Linked DNA regions of Homo sapiens: region 2 is linked to region 1. A link means that fine-mapping ties the variant in region 1 to the expression of a gene that starts in the linked region. Tissue or cell type: prefrontal cortex. Region 1 holds a variant in brackets; the other region holds the start of a gene. All regions are shown on one strand. Distances are from middle to middle.

What was found. PIP is the estimated chance that this variant, and not a neighbour inherited with it, causes the effect.
Region 2: GNB5 starts here. The variant in region 1 is fine-mapped to the expression of GNB5 in prefrontal cortex (ROSMAP, PIP 0.95).

What each region holds. Positions count from the first base shown.
Region 1 is chr15:52,118,577-52,126,680 of GRCh38, reverse strand. GNB5 (G protein subunit beta 5) reads left to right here. Exons shown (of 13, transcript NM_016194.4): 11 at 637-733; 12 at 2,042-2,208; 13 at 3,913-8,104. The coding sequence ends at 3,924. Among named protein-coding and RNA genes, the nearest start is that of BCL2L10, 9.9 kb to the right of the region's middle. The variant AG/G (reference allele first, on the strand shown) is at 3,137.
Region 2 is chr15:52,187,947-52,196,050 of GRCh38, reverse strand. It overlaps GNB5 (G protein subunit beta 5), which reads left to right and starts at 4,659. Exons shown (of 13, transcript NM_016194.4): 1 at 4,659-4,729. MYO5C (myosin VC) reads left to right here. Exons shown (of 41, transcript NM_018728.4): 40 at 594-674; 41 at 1,997-3,729. The coding sequence ends at 2,149. All of the region lies in intron 2 of CERNA1 (competing endogenous lncRNA 1 for miR-4707-5p and miR-4767), which reads right to left. RefSeq lists an enhancer at 4,062-4,561.

The DNA of each region.
Region 1 (8,104 bases):
ATTTTTATATAAGAATAGTCATCATAATATTATTTATAAAAAAGAAAAATTAAACACAACCAAAACAACAGGGTTTGGCTAAATAGATTCTGATATATTCAATAACTATGTACATAATGTTTTTTGAAGTTCTCTTTTAATGATATGAGAAAGGACGTATAACCTAATGTTAATAAAAGCAATAATGAAACATCCAACCCATTCAGATACACACATAAAATACAAATAAGACTGAAGGAAACAGCTGAGAATTAGTAAATACCTCTAGGATTTAGGGTGACCTTCATTTCCTTCTGTTTACATTTTTGAATATTTCCAAATTTTCTACAGTGAACATGTGTCCTTTATCAGAAAAAAAAGTGGGGTCTCATTTTGTTTTTATACCTGAAGAAATTTGCTGTATTTGCCGTTTCTTTACTGACTCATAGAGATTAATAGGAATCAGGACTCTTTACTGACTCATAGAAATTAACAGGAGTCGGGACTAAAGGATGAAATAACAGTAGGGAAAACTAAGAAGTTTTTCCTTCATCTTTTAAACTACGCAAGTCACTAGCACCTACCTGTAGCTCTGTGGTCATCACGTCACCAAACTGAAGCCAGAAGTAAGTGCTTCTTTATTTATTTGCTCCCCAGTGTCGCCTCTATGACCTGCGGGCAGATAGGGAGGTTGCCATCTATTCCAAAGAAAGCATCATATTTGGAGCATCCAGCGTGGACTTCTCCCTCAGTGGTAAGATTTTATTTCAGAAACTTTTCCCAGGACTGTAAGACAGGACCAGAATGAAACTAGCGCTCCATCATCGCTCAGTTCCTTTTCATCAACTGAGCTTCCTGTGGACCAGTATGCGAAATCATCCATATTTGCACCAGTTTTCCTCCTCTGAGCTTCTGACCTCCCACTTTGTCCTGCCCCAGGCAACTTCACTCCAGGGGGAAATGAAGGCTGTGTACCCACCTAATGCTGTCCTTCAAGGCAATGAAGTGTCAGAAATTCACTTCCACAATGCTCTCAGGCATTTTCTCCCCAGCCTTTGCTTCTCTTCATGCCCCAAAGGGAACTTTTCTGTAAGGTGGAGGTGAAGCAAGAGTCCCTTCTTGGTGGGATACTGTGGCTCACGCCTGTAATCCCAGCACTTTGGGAGGCCGAGACAGGCGATCACTTGAGGTCAGGAGTTCAAAACCAGCCTGGCCAACATGGTGAAACCTTGTCTCTAATAAAAATACAAAAATTGGTTGGGCATGGTGGCGCATGCCTGTAATCCCAGCTACTCAGGAGGCTGAGGCAGGAGAATCGCTTGAACCTGGAAAATGGAGCTTGCAGTGAGCTGAGATCGTGCCACTGCACTCCACCCTGGGCAACAGAGCGAGACTCTGACTCAAAGGGAAAAAAAAAATGAGTCCCTTCTCAGTGCCTTGAAGCTCATGGCTCCTTTGTGGGAAGCTGCTGGTGAAAAAGCATAGCTCCAGAAGGATCATGTCAAAAAAAGAAAGAAAAATAGAAAGTTAAAGCAGAGGTAACAGGCTGGCTACCTGGACCACTCCATTTCCCCAGACACATCCCTAGACTAACTGCACGTGAAGTTCCTGCTACTGCCTGGAACATCTTTTCCCTGCCTTCTCTGCATGACAGACTCCGATTCAACCCTCAAGAGCCAACTCAAATGTCACTTTAACTTTCTCTCTTTAAACAAGTTTTACAAGTTGTTAACTAGCAAATGACTAAAAATAATTTACTTGTGTCTGCAGTGCCCTCCTTAATCCCCCTTCCTCTCTGGTCCCATAGCACTTTACGTGTGTAAAGCACTTGCATTATGGCTGTTACCATGGGATGCTACAGTGATCTGTTCCTTTCAGCCCCACATCCTCCAACAGGGACAGGGACTGTGCTTTCTCCCCTTTGAATCCTTGAGGCAAAGCACAGTGCCTAGGACTCAGTGCGCCTGAATCACTGCTTACTGAATGAGTGAGTAACAGTCATGTAATGAGAAACAGGAAGCAAGGAACTGGCTTAACAGCTATCATCTCACCCTGCTTCAAGGTCGCCTGCTGTTTGCTGGATACAATGATTACACTATCAACGTCTGGGATGTTCTCAAAGGGTCCCGGGTCTCCATCCTGTTTGGACATGAAAACCGCGTTAGCACTCTACGAGTTTCCCCCGATGGGACTGCTTTCTGCTCTGGATCATGGGATCATACCCTCAGAGTAAGAGGGATGGTTTTCTGTTTTCCTGTGTGTGAGAGGAGAGAGGACTGGTGACAGGCCTTCTGAAGCAGAGGGAAGGCTATCAGAGTAAGCTCAGGTGGGCCTGGTCAGCCTCGCCGAGCTCTCATTTCCACTCTGCCCACAGCCACAGAGGGAATGGGTTGCCTGGAGAGGTAGCGAGTGCTGCATCAGTGCAGGTATTCTCGCACAGATTCGACAACTGCGTATCAGCCTGTAGGTGAGGGAATAGTTAGGCTTGATCATCCAGAAAGTTCCTTTTGACCCTAAAAGTCTGATTCTTGTGATTCTAGCCTTTGGCAAACCACAGATAACCAGTCTCTCCTCCTATAGTATAGGGTTCTTATTACGATTATTGACCTTGTGATGACAAGGGTCACAAATCCAGGAGGCTGTGAAGCCCCTGAAATTATTACTTTTTTCTTCCTTTTTTTTTTTTTTTTTTTTTTGGTTTTTCTATAGCTTAATCTTGGAAATGAAGCCCCTGAAATTATATGCCAAATTTGGGGTGTATGCCTTTTGTCCTCGTGGCTTTCATTAAATTCTCAAAGAGAGCTCCATAACCTTGTTGAGTGTTGGCTCACCCAAAATACTACCAAAATAGCCTGTTTAAGCTGGGCATGGTGGCTTATGCCTGTAATTGTAGCACTTTGGGAGGCCAAGTCAGGCGGATCACTTGAGGTCAGGAGTTCCAGACCAGCCTGGGCAACATGGTGAAACCCTGTCTCTACTAAAAATACAAAAATCAGCCAGGCGTGGTGGCATGCACCTGTAGTCCCGGCTACTCGGGAGGCTGAGGCTGGAGAATCGCTTGAACCCAGGAGGCAGAGGTTGCAGTGAGCCAAGATCATCCCACTGCACTCCAGGCTGGGCAACAGAGCAAGACTCTGTCTCAAAAAAAAAAAAAAAA[AG/G]TAGCCCATTCATAGAGCAAAGCTAAATTTATTGCTTACCTCAGTGTGGAACATCAAGAATTGGTAGAGGTGTAGTGGCATCTCAGAAGAGGATGACAAAGGCATGCATGAGGTTTTTTTGGTCTGGTTTAAGGCAGGTCTTTGTTGGGGGGCACTTAATTAGGATTGGACAACTTTGTGGCATAATAGTTTTAGGATTGCTGGATGCAGGGGTGGGGGAGGGTTTCGAACAAACCCTTTAAAACTAAATAGTCATTTGATGCTCTATATTGTCCTGAGACATGGGTGTGTTTTCTAAAGAGGGTAAGTTGAGTAGTCTAGTGTTAGGATAGAGAAAAGGATTTTTGCAAAATTCCTGAAACAAATAAAAAAGTTATCTGTGAGTTCATCTTCCTGGGTAAGAGTGTCCTAAGTGAGTAGTCATGTTAATGTATATGGTGAGCTGTATGGGTTCAAATGGTTTTGGTTGTCAATCTGGAAGAGTAGCTAGGCCCGTAAGGAGGCTGCAGATGCCCCACAGACAATTAACTAAGGGAGGAGAAGATCAGGTCCAAAGAAGCACCTTTGCATTGCTAGGAGTACAGTGTTATCCTTCTAAGGCACATGAGCACCCTATTTTGGATGGAGTGTGTATGTTTGTGTGTGTGTGTGTGTACACACACATATATGTATGCCCATGCATGTGTGTGAATAGACTAATTTTATCTCTTTAAGCTCAAGTTTTATAAGTTGTTAACTACAAAGGTCTAAAAACTATCTGTTTGTGTCTTCACAGGTCTGGGCCTAATCATCTTCTGACAGTGCACTCATGTATACCTGAGAATTTGAAATCTTCACATGTAAATAGATATTACTTCTAGAGGAGCTTAGAGTTTATTGCAGTGTAGCTTAGGGGAGCAACCCATGGCTCACAGGTCACTAAGCGTCTCCAATATGACTATTAAAACTGTCACCTCTGGAAATACACTAGTGTGAGCCTTCAGCACTGCGAGAATACCTTCAAGTACAGTATTTTTCTTTTGGAACACTTTTTAAAATGTATCTGTTTTTAAGGTTATTCTAAATTATAGTAGCCTCAACTCATTCTGTCACCAGTAGAATTCAGCAGTTAATATATTCCATATTATTTCTTTGAATCAATTCATTTTCAGAGCACTTTAAAGTCTGATATTTCTCGATGTGCACTGTGATGCCTGGAACCTTCCTCTGGAAGTGCTGATTTTATGGACTGAGGACTGGTGACTGGTCTGTGATAGAAGCAAATTCCAATTCCAAATGTAATTAGACAAAAATCATTTTTTTAGAATGTGTTTTTATTGTAAAAGTATCTTTTTCAGCTTCCTGTTCTATTGTCTTTTTTCAGATACAACATTTTTGTCTATGGTGAACTGCTGTAAATGACGCAGAGAAATGCCTAAAAAGGACAGGTGGTTTGACTCATGGATGATGATGATGTCACTGTGCCACTTGGACAGGGCGTTTTCTCTGAATTGAAGGGAAAGCCAATGGTGTTTGTAAACAAATGCTTCTGAGAGCAAAGAAAAGTCTTCTGTGTGGGAACACAAGATAGTAAACTTATTTAAAAACCTATTAGTAGAATTAGTGGAAACACTTAGGTTAAAGTGAATCTTGTCCATATAAATTATATTCATGGCCGGGCGCGGTGGCTCACGCTTGTAATCCCAGCACTTTGGGAGGCCGAGGCGGGCGGATCACGAGGTCAGGAGTTCGAGACCACGGTGAAACCCTGTCTCTACTAAAAAATACAAAAAATTAGCCGGGCGTGGTGGCGGGCGCCTGTAGTCCCAGCTACTCGGAGAGGCTGAGGCAGGAGAATGGCGTGAACCCGGGAGGTGGAGCTTGCAGTGAGCCGAGGTCGAGCCACTGCAGCCTGGGTGACAAAGCGAGACTCCGTCTCAAAAAAAAAAAAAAATTATATTCATATGTATTGCATTGCAATTATAATTACATATGCAGATTGATTGATAGTCATGAATAATAACGTCTGCTCCTCTTACATAGAAAAACGATATTAAAAGAAGATCTTCTCTTTATTTGAGACTCAGAATTCCTTCTAGAAGAAGGAAGTGCTTTTTGTTATAGGATCCCTTCTTTTCCTTTTTTTGTTTTTTTGTAAGATGTAGATGCTTATTCTTTGCTTTAGAAAACTTCTCACTTAAAAAGATGGCATGCACCTAGGGGAATAAAAGGTCACCTCAGACACCAGGTGTCATTCCTGGTGAGGCCTGCCTCGTCGGTGGCCTGGGGTCTGCCGGCAGGTTCTGGCTGCACCTGAAGGCTGCGTGCACCTTGTCCCCTGGACAGGTCTCCTTTCCTGGCCCTGCTCCAGCCCAGCCCTTCTTCTAGTGGTAGCTCTGGCTTTGCAGGCCCAGCTCCAGGCCCTGCTCCTCAGAGAGACTCTTCCAGAGCTGGAGCTGGGCACAGCCATAAGACAGGACTGGACCAGATGCTCCTGTAAACATCCAGGGGTGTGCCAGGCCCACCCTCACAACTGCTTGTTCAGGTATCGTGATGGGCCACTCGGTCCAAAATCAGCCAGGCCATCTTTTCCATCATCTCACTTCAAATAAACATAATAATTATATTTGATCATTTGCAGAGCAGTTACTGGTGGTTTTATTGTACACTGGGGTCTGGGGTAGAGAGAGAAAAATGAAGGGCCTCTGCCTTCCTCCAGGGAGCCCAGAGAGAGTGCTTTTTAGTCCCAGTAGATTCCAGTCTGGGCAGGGGCTCAGGAAATGGGCCCAGTGTCTGGCCAGCTCCTGCCAGGTGCTGAAGGGGTCAGGGCACCATGGGATTCCTGAGCTCTGCTCCAGAATGTCCCACAGTGGCCCCTGGTGCAGCTGGCCTCCTTGTGGTGGCATCCCCAACCCTCTCTCCCACAGCCATTTTTTTTTTTGTCTCTGCACTGTGCCTTCCGGCTCCCAGAAGTGCAGGAAGGCACGAGAAAGGAAGGAAAGGTGGCCCAGGGAAGCACATTCCAGGTTCCATGTTTGGAGAGGTGGAGAGCATCTTCAGGATATGTGCAAAGTAGACTGTGACTTTCCAATCCAAAAAGCCACTTTAAGGGCCCAGGGAAAGTATTCCAGAGAATGCTTCCACTCCCCGCATGGGCAGGAAGCCTCCTTCGCTGTGAGCATGCGCTCTCGCAGTGGGTGCTGTCGGGATTTGCTGATGAGATACTTGATTTGGACTATGTGACAGCATGTGGAGACTCAGGGGTAAGCTCCATGGGATAGATTGTATTTTGCAGATTGAAAATAATGCTGAGTGCATTTTATAATCAGCTTTTCTTTTTTCCAGAGGACTTGGGGATAAACCTACCAAACCAATTGTGGTGAAGGGGCCAAACAGATGGGCCCCCAGGGGTGTAGAGCCTTGGGCAGCCCCCTCCTGGGCCAGAAAAAAGAAAGTTCAGGCAGAAAGGTGTGGGTGATGGGTATTTATGGGAAATATCTGTGACATGAAGCCAAGTCCAGTGCTTTAGAATGCGCGGTCAGCCTCTCACCGGTGGGGCCCTGGCAGCCGTCCCTCTTCTCCCAGGCGAGCCAGAGGTGGGCATCCCGTTGCCACTGCCCTCTTCCCGCTCTTCTACCTCCTTTGCACCCTTCTCTAGGTTATAAGTGGCTTAAAACAGCACAGGGTTGTAAGGGCCTTTGTGTCCCGGGCTCTCATAGTTGCCAGGCCAGCTGGCTGAAAGGTGGCACCACCGATACTGGGACTCCTCTGTGAGTTAGAGGGATGCCTTGGTGACATAAGAGGGCTGGCCTTCATTCACACCCACCTCTGTCACGGTCACAGAATATATGATAATATCTGAGTTTTTCTCAGCCTCAGTTTCCCCATTTGTAACATGGGATGGGACTAAAATATGTAAAGTGCCTACCTCAGCCTTTAGCACATCTTCAGGAAGGGTTAGTTCCCAGCTTCTCCCTGTGTCCTCCTCAGTCCCCTTCCTATTTGCCCCCCTCCCTTCTCCCTCCACCTATCTTCCCTCTTTCTCTTCCCTTCCCCTCCTCCTCCCTCTCTCCTCCCTCTCTCCCATTTCCCCCTCCCTCCCTCCCATCTCCTCCTCCCTCCCTCCCATCTCCTCCTCCTCCCTCCCATCTCCTCCCTCCCATCTCCTCCTCCCTCCCATCTCCTCCTCCCTCCCATCTCCTCCTCCCTCCCATCTCCTCCTCCCTTCCTCCTGTCACCCCTCCTCCCTCCCTCTCATCACCTCCTCCCTCCCTCCCATCGCCTCCTCTCTCCTTCCTATCTCCTCTTTCCTCTTCTCTGCCCCCTCCCCCTCTCCTCATTCATCCGGACTCCTTTTTCTAACCCTTCTCAATCTTCCCCCATTCCTCATCTCCTCTTCCTCTGTCTCCCTGTTCCACCTCTCTCCTGGTCTCCTTCCTTCCCCTTCTGCTGTTTCTCCCTCCCTCCTCCTCCCTTCCCATTCCCCTTCCCCCAGCACTTCCTTTTCTCCCCATCTCCTCCCCATTCCCCTTCCCCCAGCTCTTTCTTTTCTCCCCATCTCCTCCCCATCCATAGGCAGCCCCCACTCATATAGCAAATTAGTAATTCTCATCAGTTAGAGCTTCGTCTGGGCTAGTGGTTCTCAAACTTTTTGGTCTTAGGATCTCTGTACACTTTTTTTTTTTTTTTTTTTTTACGTGGAGTTTTGCTCTTGTTGCCCAGGCTGGAGTGCAGTGGCGCGATCTCGGGCTCACTTCAACCTCCGCCTCCTGGGTTCAAGCGATTCTCCTGCCTCAGCCTCCCGAGTAGCTGGGATTACAAGGCATGCACCACCACGCCCGGCTAATTTTGTATTTTTAGTAGAGACCAGGTTTCTCCATGTTGGTCACACTGGTCTCGAACTCCCAACCTCAGGTGATCCTCCCACCTTGGCCTCCCAAAGTGCTGGGATTACAGGTGTAAGCCACCGTGCCCAGCCTACACCCTTA
Region 2 (8,104 bases), 69 kb before region 1:
TTGCCTGAGCCCAGGAGTTTGAGACTAGTCTGGGCAACATAACAAGACGCTCTACCAAAAAAAAAAAAAAAAAAAAAAAAAAAAAAAAGCTGGGTGTGATGGCACACACCTTTGGTCCCAGCTACTTGGGAGGCTGAGGCGGGAGGATCGCATGAGTCCAGGGGTTCGAGGCTGCAGTGAGCCATGATCATGCCACTGCACCCCAGCCTGGGCAATAAAGGGAGACCCTATCTCAAAAATAATAATAATAATAATCACACACACACATATACACAAATGTCTATGATGCATTCATTCCCTGCCCATTAAACTCACAAATGTGTATGTGGAGGGGTGGCCATGTGGGAGGTGGGGAGGCTAGAAGGGGGCTCCTCTTACTGTTTTCTGATTATCTGATTTGCCTTTGCTCCCTAAGGCACTTTTCTCCCCTTGTTTTCTTTTCTTGGAAATAGGTAACATACAGTTCCTGAACCAAATTATAGGCTAAAAGAACCACCTGTGCTTCCCAATGGTTCCCAATAACCAGAACCATTATTTTATGAACAGAGTTATTATTTTGCATGGTCTAACACCATGTTATGTACCGTTTGCAGATCATAAAGATCCTTAATTCATACACACCTATAGATGACTTTGAGAAGAGAGTGACTCCATCCTTTGTTCGCAAAGTACAGGTGAGATTCTTAAGGATGTGCCTTTTAATTTTACTTCCTAACTATGGTATAAGATGTTGATACTTAATTAACATTATAGAAATCCAGGATTAAAGTACATTTACCCACATATACAAATGAAAGGCACCCAGCTCAAAGGTAAGCAGGAAATTTTCCTGTGAAATTTTCAGAATCCACCTTAGTCCAGGTGGGAGGGGAATGAAAGCACCAAAATCATGTCTCCCGTGCTGTATTCTGTCAATATATCTTATTTCTTACTGATCGTTGAATACTGTGCAAGTGGGCAGAGGCTGAATGGAAACAGAGACCATTTTTCTTTTATAATCATTTGTATAACCATTTTTTCTTATATAATCCCTAAAGTTTGTCCCCTAAGGAACTCTAGGGCAGCAGTTCTCCAAGTTTGGCTCAAGGATCCCTGGGAGTCCTTGAGACACTTTCAAGAGGGTCTGCAAAACTCTTCCTTTTTCTAAATATGTACCTGTGGATTTTCTAAGTAGGTATCTGTGGATTTTCTCAATAGTTATCTGTGGATTTTCTTCGTGTACTTCAACCAAAATAACATATCACAACAGATTGAATGCAGAAGCAGATATATATGATATATCGTATATATGATAATATAGCATATATATTAAAATATGGCGTATATAATATATGGTTATATATGATAATATATTAAGTCAGACATGAAAGAGATTTGCAAAAATAGAAAATACCACTTCTCACTAAATTTTCTTTGTTTTGGAAACTTATGTTTAACATGTGTAGAGCTTATTTTAATGAATTAATAAATCATTTTAATTACTAATATGGCAAATACCGATATACACATATACACAATGTATATTTAATTACTAATATGGCAAATGCCAATATACCCATATACACAAAAGCTTTTGGGGCCTCAGTCATGTTTTAGTATAAAGCGGTCCTGAGACCAAAAAGGTTGCAAACCCATGAATGAAGAAGAAAGATGGGTTCAATAAAAATGTAATACTTGAAATCTACTCATGTTTGACCTTAGAATTATGCCATGAGAATAGATTAGAATAGAAAACAGATTTATGGTCAACTCATCCCATGGGAAATTAACTTCTGAAGTGAAACAGGACAAGTTAATTGTTCTGAGAGCTGATCTGGAAGCCCTGGATAGACTTTGGAATTGTGCTGTTGTTAAAAAGTTCTCATGTATGTCATTTCATGTGATGGTGCAAGGAGCTCTCCACTAGAGATAGCTGTGTTTTGCCTTGACTTTCAGGTAGCAGTAAAGCAGAACATGTTAGTTTCCTTACTCATTTTTCCTCTGATTCTAATTTCAGGCTCTCCTAAATAGCCGGGAGGATTCATCACAGCTGATGTTGGATACCAAATATCTCTTTCAAGTCACATTTCCTTTTACCCCCTCTCCACATGCTCTGGAAATGATTCAGATCCCCAGCAGTTTCAAGCTAGGCTTTCTGAATAGGTTATAGCAGGAGAAAAAGTCAATGCACTTTTTCTTCAAAAGCTAAGTGAAGGTTCAATATGAGGGATGTGTTTTATTAATTGGCAGTGGAAATTGGAATGTGATTTAAGGAAGAAAACAGACTTTTCTCAAATGGACCACATCATCTCTCACTCACAGTGACAATGCTGCTCCTGTAATTTTGTAAGAATTCACACACACCAGCTGTATTTGGAAAAGCCATGTCTCACTCTCGAATCTCAGCTGGTTTTCACTGAAATTCCTGGAGGGCTCATATTTTCTTCCACGTGCCTCTTGATCTGTTCTGTCTTGTGGCAGGGCTCTACCAGGAGGGAGTGAGATCTGGGGACACAGTGGCTTCCAAGTTTTCTAAGGTTCATGTGAAACCTGAGTACATTTACAAAGCTGCAAGTGGATTCTAGTGCTGAGTCTTCCAGGAAAAAATCCCGTTTGGCCACCGTGACCTGCCAAAAGTTCTCTTGCCCCATGCCTGCTGGGGACAGAAGGTTTTCATGAACTCTTTTTACTGAAAATGCCCTGCATTTAAAAATGTTTATTTTAGACCCTTCTAAATTTTTTTTTTTTTTTTTTTTTGAGACTCCGGAGTCTCGCTCTATCGCCAGGCTGGAGTGTAGTGGCATGATCTCGGCTTATTGCAACCTCCGCTTCCTGGGTTCAAACAATTCTCCTGCCTCAGCCTCCTGAGTAGCTGGGACTACAGGCACCTGCCACCACGCCCAGCTAATTTTTGTATTTTTAGTGGAGACAGGTTTCACCATGTTGGCCAGGATGGCCTCGATCTCTTGACCTCGTGATCCGCCCACCTCAGCCTCCCAAAGTGCTAGGATTACAGGCGTGTGCCACCGCGCCCGGCTGACCCTTTTAATTTTTAAGAGTGTTCAATCCGAGATGAATCATTTGAAGTATTTTTATATGTATATCTATTTAAAACTAATATATTATTAAAGCTTAATTGCCATGCCGTTTATCTTCTCTGAAAGAACTTCAAATCTTACCTGCCAACATATTCACCATAATTTTTTTATTTTTTAATACCTTTCATACAATAACTTTTTTAAAACAACCTCAGATTGAAAAAGCAACCTAAATTACTTTCGCTCTCTAATCAGCATTTCAATGTATTTATTTTTAAATTTTCTCAAAAAGTAACTAAAAAATTGTGTCGGACCCTACTTTTGAGAAATCTACGTTTCCCAAGTTTTATGGGAACTGGCTATTCCTTGTCCCGGCACACCTTCTCATTCCTTCCTTTCAGAGCCTAAAACCTCATTTGATAAGCACTCCTAGTCTCTGGCCTGTGGATCCAGTGCTATTCTGTCACCAACCTAAGAATCCCAATTGCACCTTCTGTTTCTGACAGTCACAGGTGACAGCTGTGATTCTATAATACAGACTGGTGTCTTAGAGGTAGGAATAATACATGATTATGAAGCATCACCCTGCTAATACATAATAATGTCTTTTTATATTATAAGTGATTGAGTTTAGTTCATTTCAATACATTGTACATGAAAAAATGAAAAGTAGAACTTTGTAATACTTTAATCAATAAAATTAATTACCAAATGAATTGGGTCAGATTCTTTCATTGCGAGGAGATGACATGTCTCTTAAGTGTACAAGTTGTATGCCTTTCTTTACGGTCATACTGAAAGATGCTAGAATCTTTATAGATTCATAATATCTCATTTAAAGTATATTAAAATGTTTAGAGAAGAAGTAAATATGTCATAAGTGCTGGCTTAGGCTGTGTCTCCAGGGCGCTTCCACACTGTCAGAATGAGGGGCTACTTGGCAGAGAATTGGCAGGGTTTCTGATCCTGAGCTGCGGCCTCCATGCCCTTTCTAGACCTTCCCCACACCATGAGGAGCCATCACTGTTGGTTTTCGGCTTCCATAACTCAGGATTTATGCCTGTTTTATAGCACTTACCCTGGACTGGAAGCCAGAAATGCTGCCCATTTCCTCTGTAGGCCTGTGAGCCCCAGAGGGCAGGTGCCACATCCTCCTCATCCCTGCCTTCATCCTACTGCTGATGAGGTGGGAAGAGAACTGAAGGAGCAAAGTCCCGTTGGAGGACTGTGTGTGTGTGGTGGGGAGTCAACCATGGGAAAAAGTAGGTCATGTTTGGGGACAGGGAGACCTGTGGAGGCTGAGGAGTTTATGTGTGGAAAAATGGGGAAAGGGAGGCACTCATCCCACAGTCTTGATCAGTTCTACAAAGCTGACAGTGGCAAGGAGACCAAAATAGAGAAATGTTAAGAACATGTGGCCCAGGTGAATGTGAGGGCTGCTCAGTGAGTGGGCGCAGACACAGAGGTCAAACCTGCCAAGGCCTCCCTCCACAGAGGGGCTGGGCAGGTTCCAGGGGTGAGTGAGGGATGCAGATGGCAGTGCGTGCCCAGCAGGGAGCATGGAAGTGCTGTGGAGGAAGGAAGCAAGCTGAGCAGCACTCCAGAGAAGATAAGGAGATTAGCCAGTGGGAGACGTGCTTCACACCTCAAGCTGCGCGCTGGTCCTCACCTCTCACCATCTGCTCTGTGGCTCCCAGTGCTGACTCTGGAAGGTATGTGCATGCTGACATTCGGTTAAAATACTCCAGCTTTTGAAATGCTCAGAAAAGCATCCAGATGAGTACAGGGCACAGTGTTAGCAGGTCTTTCTGTGCGGTGGGAGCATGGGTGAGGGGTTTTGTTGTTGTTAATCCGTAGAATCTAATTTTTCTACAATACACATGAATTTATTTTGAAATAGTAAATTTCAAATATTTCAAATTGAAATATTTCAATATTTTTTACATTAATATTGGCATCAGGAAAGAGATTAAGCATACTTAAAATCACTAAGTCAGTTTTAAAATTTGATCCAGGTGACACATGGCAACATAAGCCTCTGAGTACAGCTTATGGGGTTAGAAAGAGGTTTTTAGTTGTAAGTCTGAGATACATCCACATTGTGTGTATCAGTTATTTTTTATTCTATGCTCATTTCACAGTTTCGTCTGTGACTGGTGAACATTTGGGTCTTTCAAGTTTAGGCCTTCTATGAATAGCTGCTATGACATTTATGTTTTTTTTTTTTTTTTTTTTTTTTTTTTTTTTTTTTTTTTAAGGAAATAAGCATTATTTTCTGTGGTGTATGTATGCACGAGTAGAATTGCCTGGTCATAGACTATATCCGTTTCACTTTAGTAGCTCCTACCAACCAGTTTTCTACAGTGGTTATACCGACTTATACTCCCACTAGCAGAGAAAGGCAGTTCCAGTCTCTGCATCCTTGCCCACACTTTGTGTTGTCAGGCTTTTTAGGTTTTCTGATGGCTAAGTAGTTGTATCACATCGTAGTTTTACTTTGTATTTCTATGATGACTAATGATAATGAGCACCTTTTTATATGTTTATTGACCATATAAGTATCCTCATTTGTGAAGTGACTACACAAGCCTTTTGTCCATTTTAAAAATAATCTTTGGGCTGGGCGCGGTGGCTCATGCCTGTAATCCCAGCACTTTGGGAGGCTGAGGCGGGCAGATCATGAGGTCAGGAGATTGAGAGCATCCTGGTTAACACGGTGAAACCCCATCTCTACTAAAAATACAAGAAATTAGCCGGGTGAGGTGGCGGGCGCCTGTATTCCCAGATATTTGGGAGGCTGAGGCAGGAGAATGGCATGAACCTGGGAGGCGGAGCTTACAGTGAGCCGAGATTGCGCCACTGCACTCCAACCTGGGCGACAGAGCAAGACTCTGTCTAAAAAAAAAAAAAAAAAAATTTATTGAGATATGATGTCCACGTTTTGTTTCATGTTTTAAAACCCATCATTTTAAAACATATATTTCAGTGTTTTTTAAGTTTATTTACAAGGATTTGCAACCATTGCCACTGACTCCAGAGTATTTTCATCACCCCGAAAAAGAAATCCCATACCCCTTAAGCAGCCACTCACTCTCAGCTCCCTCCTTCCCCCTTATTCTCTCTTCCCTCCACCTCGCAACTACTCATCTGCTTCATGTCTCTATGGATTTGCTGATCCTGTACACTTCATATAAATAAATCATACAATATGTGGCCTTTTGTGTCTGGCTTCTGTCATAGGATAGCGTTTTTAAGGTTTGACCATGTTGTAGCATGTGTCAGAACGTCATTCTTTTTTATTGCTGAATAGCAGTCTACTGGAGGGATAGACATTTTGTTTTTCATTTGTCGGTTGGTGGACACTTGGGTTGCTTTCACTTTTGGCTAATAATGCTGCCATGAAAATTAGTATGTACATTTTTATGTGAACATATATTTTCTTTTTTTTTGTTCTGAGACGGAGTCTCACTGCATTGCCCAGGCTGGATTTCAGTGGCGCGATCTTGGCTCACTGCAACCTCCATCCCCCAAGTTCAAGCAGTTCTCATGTCTCAGCCTCCCAAGTAGCTGGGATTACAGGCACCTGCCACCACGCCTGGCTAATTTTTGTATAGTAGATATGGGGTTTCACCATGTTGCCCAGGCTGACCTCAGGTGATCTACCCGCCTGGGCCTTCCAAAGTACTGGGATTACAGGCATGAGCCACCACGCCCAGCCAGTGAACATACATTTTCAAGTATCCTGGGTATATATCTAGAAGTAGGATTGCGGGGTCTTATGGTAACAGCTGTATATTTAAGTTTTGAATAACTGCCAAACCGTTTTCCACAGCTGCACCATTGGAAAACGGCTACCCCACTTTACCTTCCCACCAGCAATGTATGAAGGTCCTTTTGTCCATTTTTAATTGAGTTAATGAAGCAGTATTTTAAAAGTAAAAACTGGATATACCCTATGTATCCAAACACGGAAGTTGGTTTAATAAATTATGACACTCCACAGCATAGAATAATGCTGAACCTATTACCAAACAAGGTTGATCTATAAGTGTTAACAGAATAAGTTAGATGAAGAAAGCAAGTAGCCCTATTTGCATGACTACCAAAGCTGTATCTATGTGTTTGTGCCAGAAAAGTCTGGAAGAATAAACAACAAACTAAGGGCAGTGAAAATGCAGGGCATGTGATGGGGGATTCAAGTTTTACTTTTTCATCTTTGGTACTGGTTCTTTTTAAAATAAACACGTATTTCTGTGGTAATTTTTTAAGTCACATATTTAGGTAAAACAGATATCAAAGAAAGTTTGTGCTTGGCATAAAGTTATTAGGGGAAGGTTTGAGAAGTTCTATGAACTACTGCAGAGCAACTTCATGTCAAAATTTGTTAAATGGGGCATTTCTGTCTTTCTTGTCAAAATGCTCATCGAAACATTGGCTCTAGCTGTGAAAAATTCTCTCATCATAAAAAGGATATTGACAATAAGTACAACAAAGTACTAAAATTTAGCTGATACAAATACTAAGTGAAAAACATCAAGATACAGAAATGTAATCAGTATACATGAACAGTATGACCTCAGTGGTCTCAAATCTATTCTTGCTACACCAAAATGTAAAAAGAAGTTTCTCTGAGTGGTGGGATTATAGGTGATTATCTTCTTCCTTATATCTTTTTTTCCCCCAAACTTTCTACAATGCATATGTATAATATTTACAGTTTAAAAATGCTTTAAATTTAGTTTGTAGCTTGCCCATGTTTAACCAGTGAGGTCTAAAATGCTAGCTATGTGATACGACTTAAGGCCCATAGGACTCAAAAATTGGAGTCTCCGTTAAAAAATGGTGTTTTCCAGTAATATGCAATGACGTGAAGATGAAAATGCTATTATATAAAGTAGTATATGGCATATAATTCCAATTTGTTAAAAAGTACACACATATATACTTATAAAGATACTAGAGGAAAACATAAAATGCCAACAGGTCAGTTGTTGGTGTAGGGCATGTGGGCGATTTACTTTCCCCTTTTTGTGTCCTTCTGTTTCCACTTATTTATTTATTTATTTTTAATTTTTAATTTTCTTTGA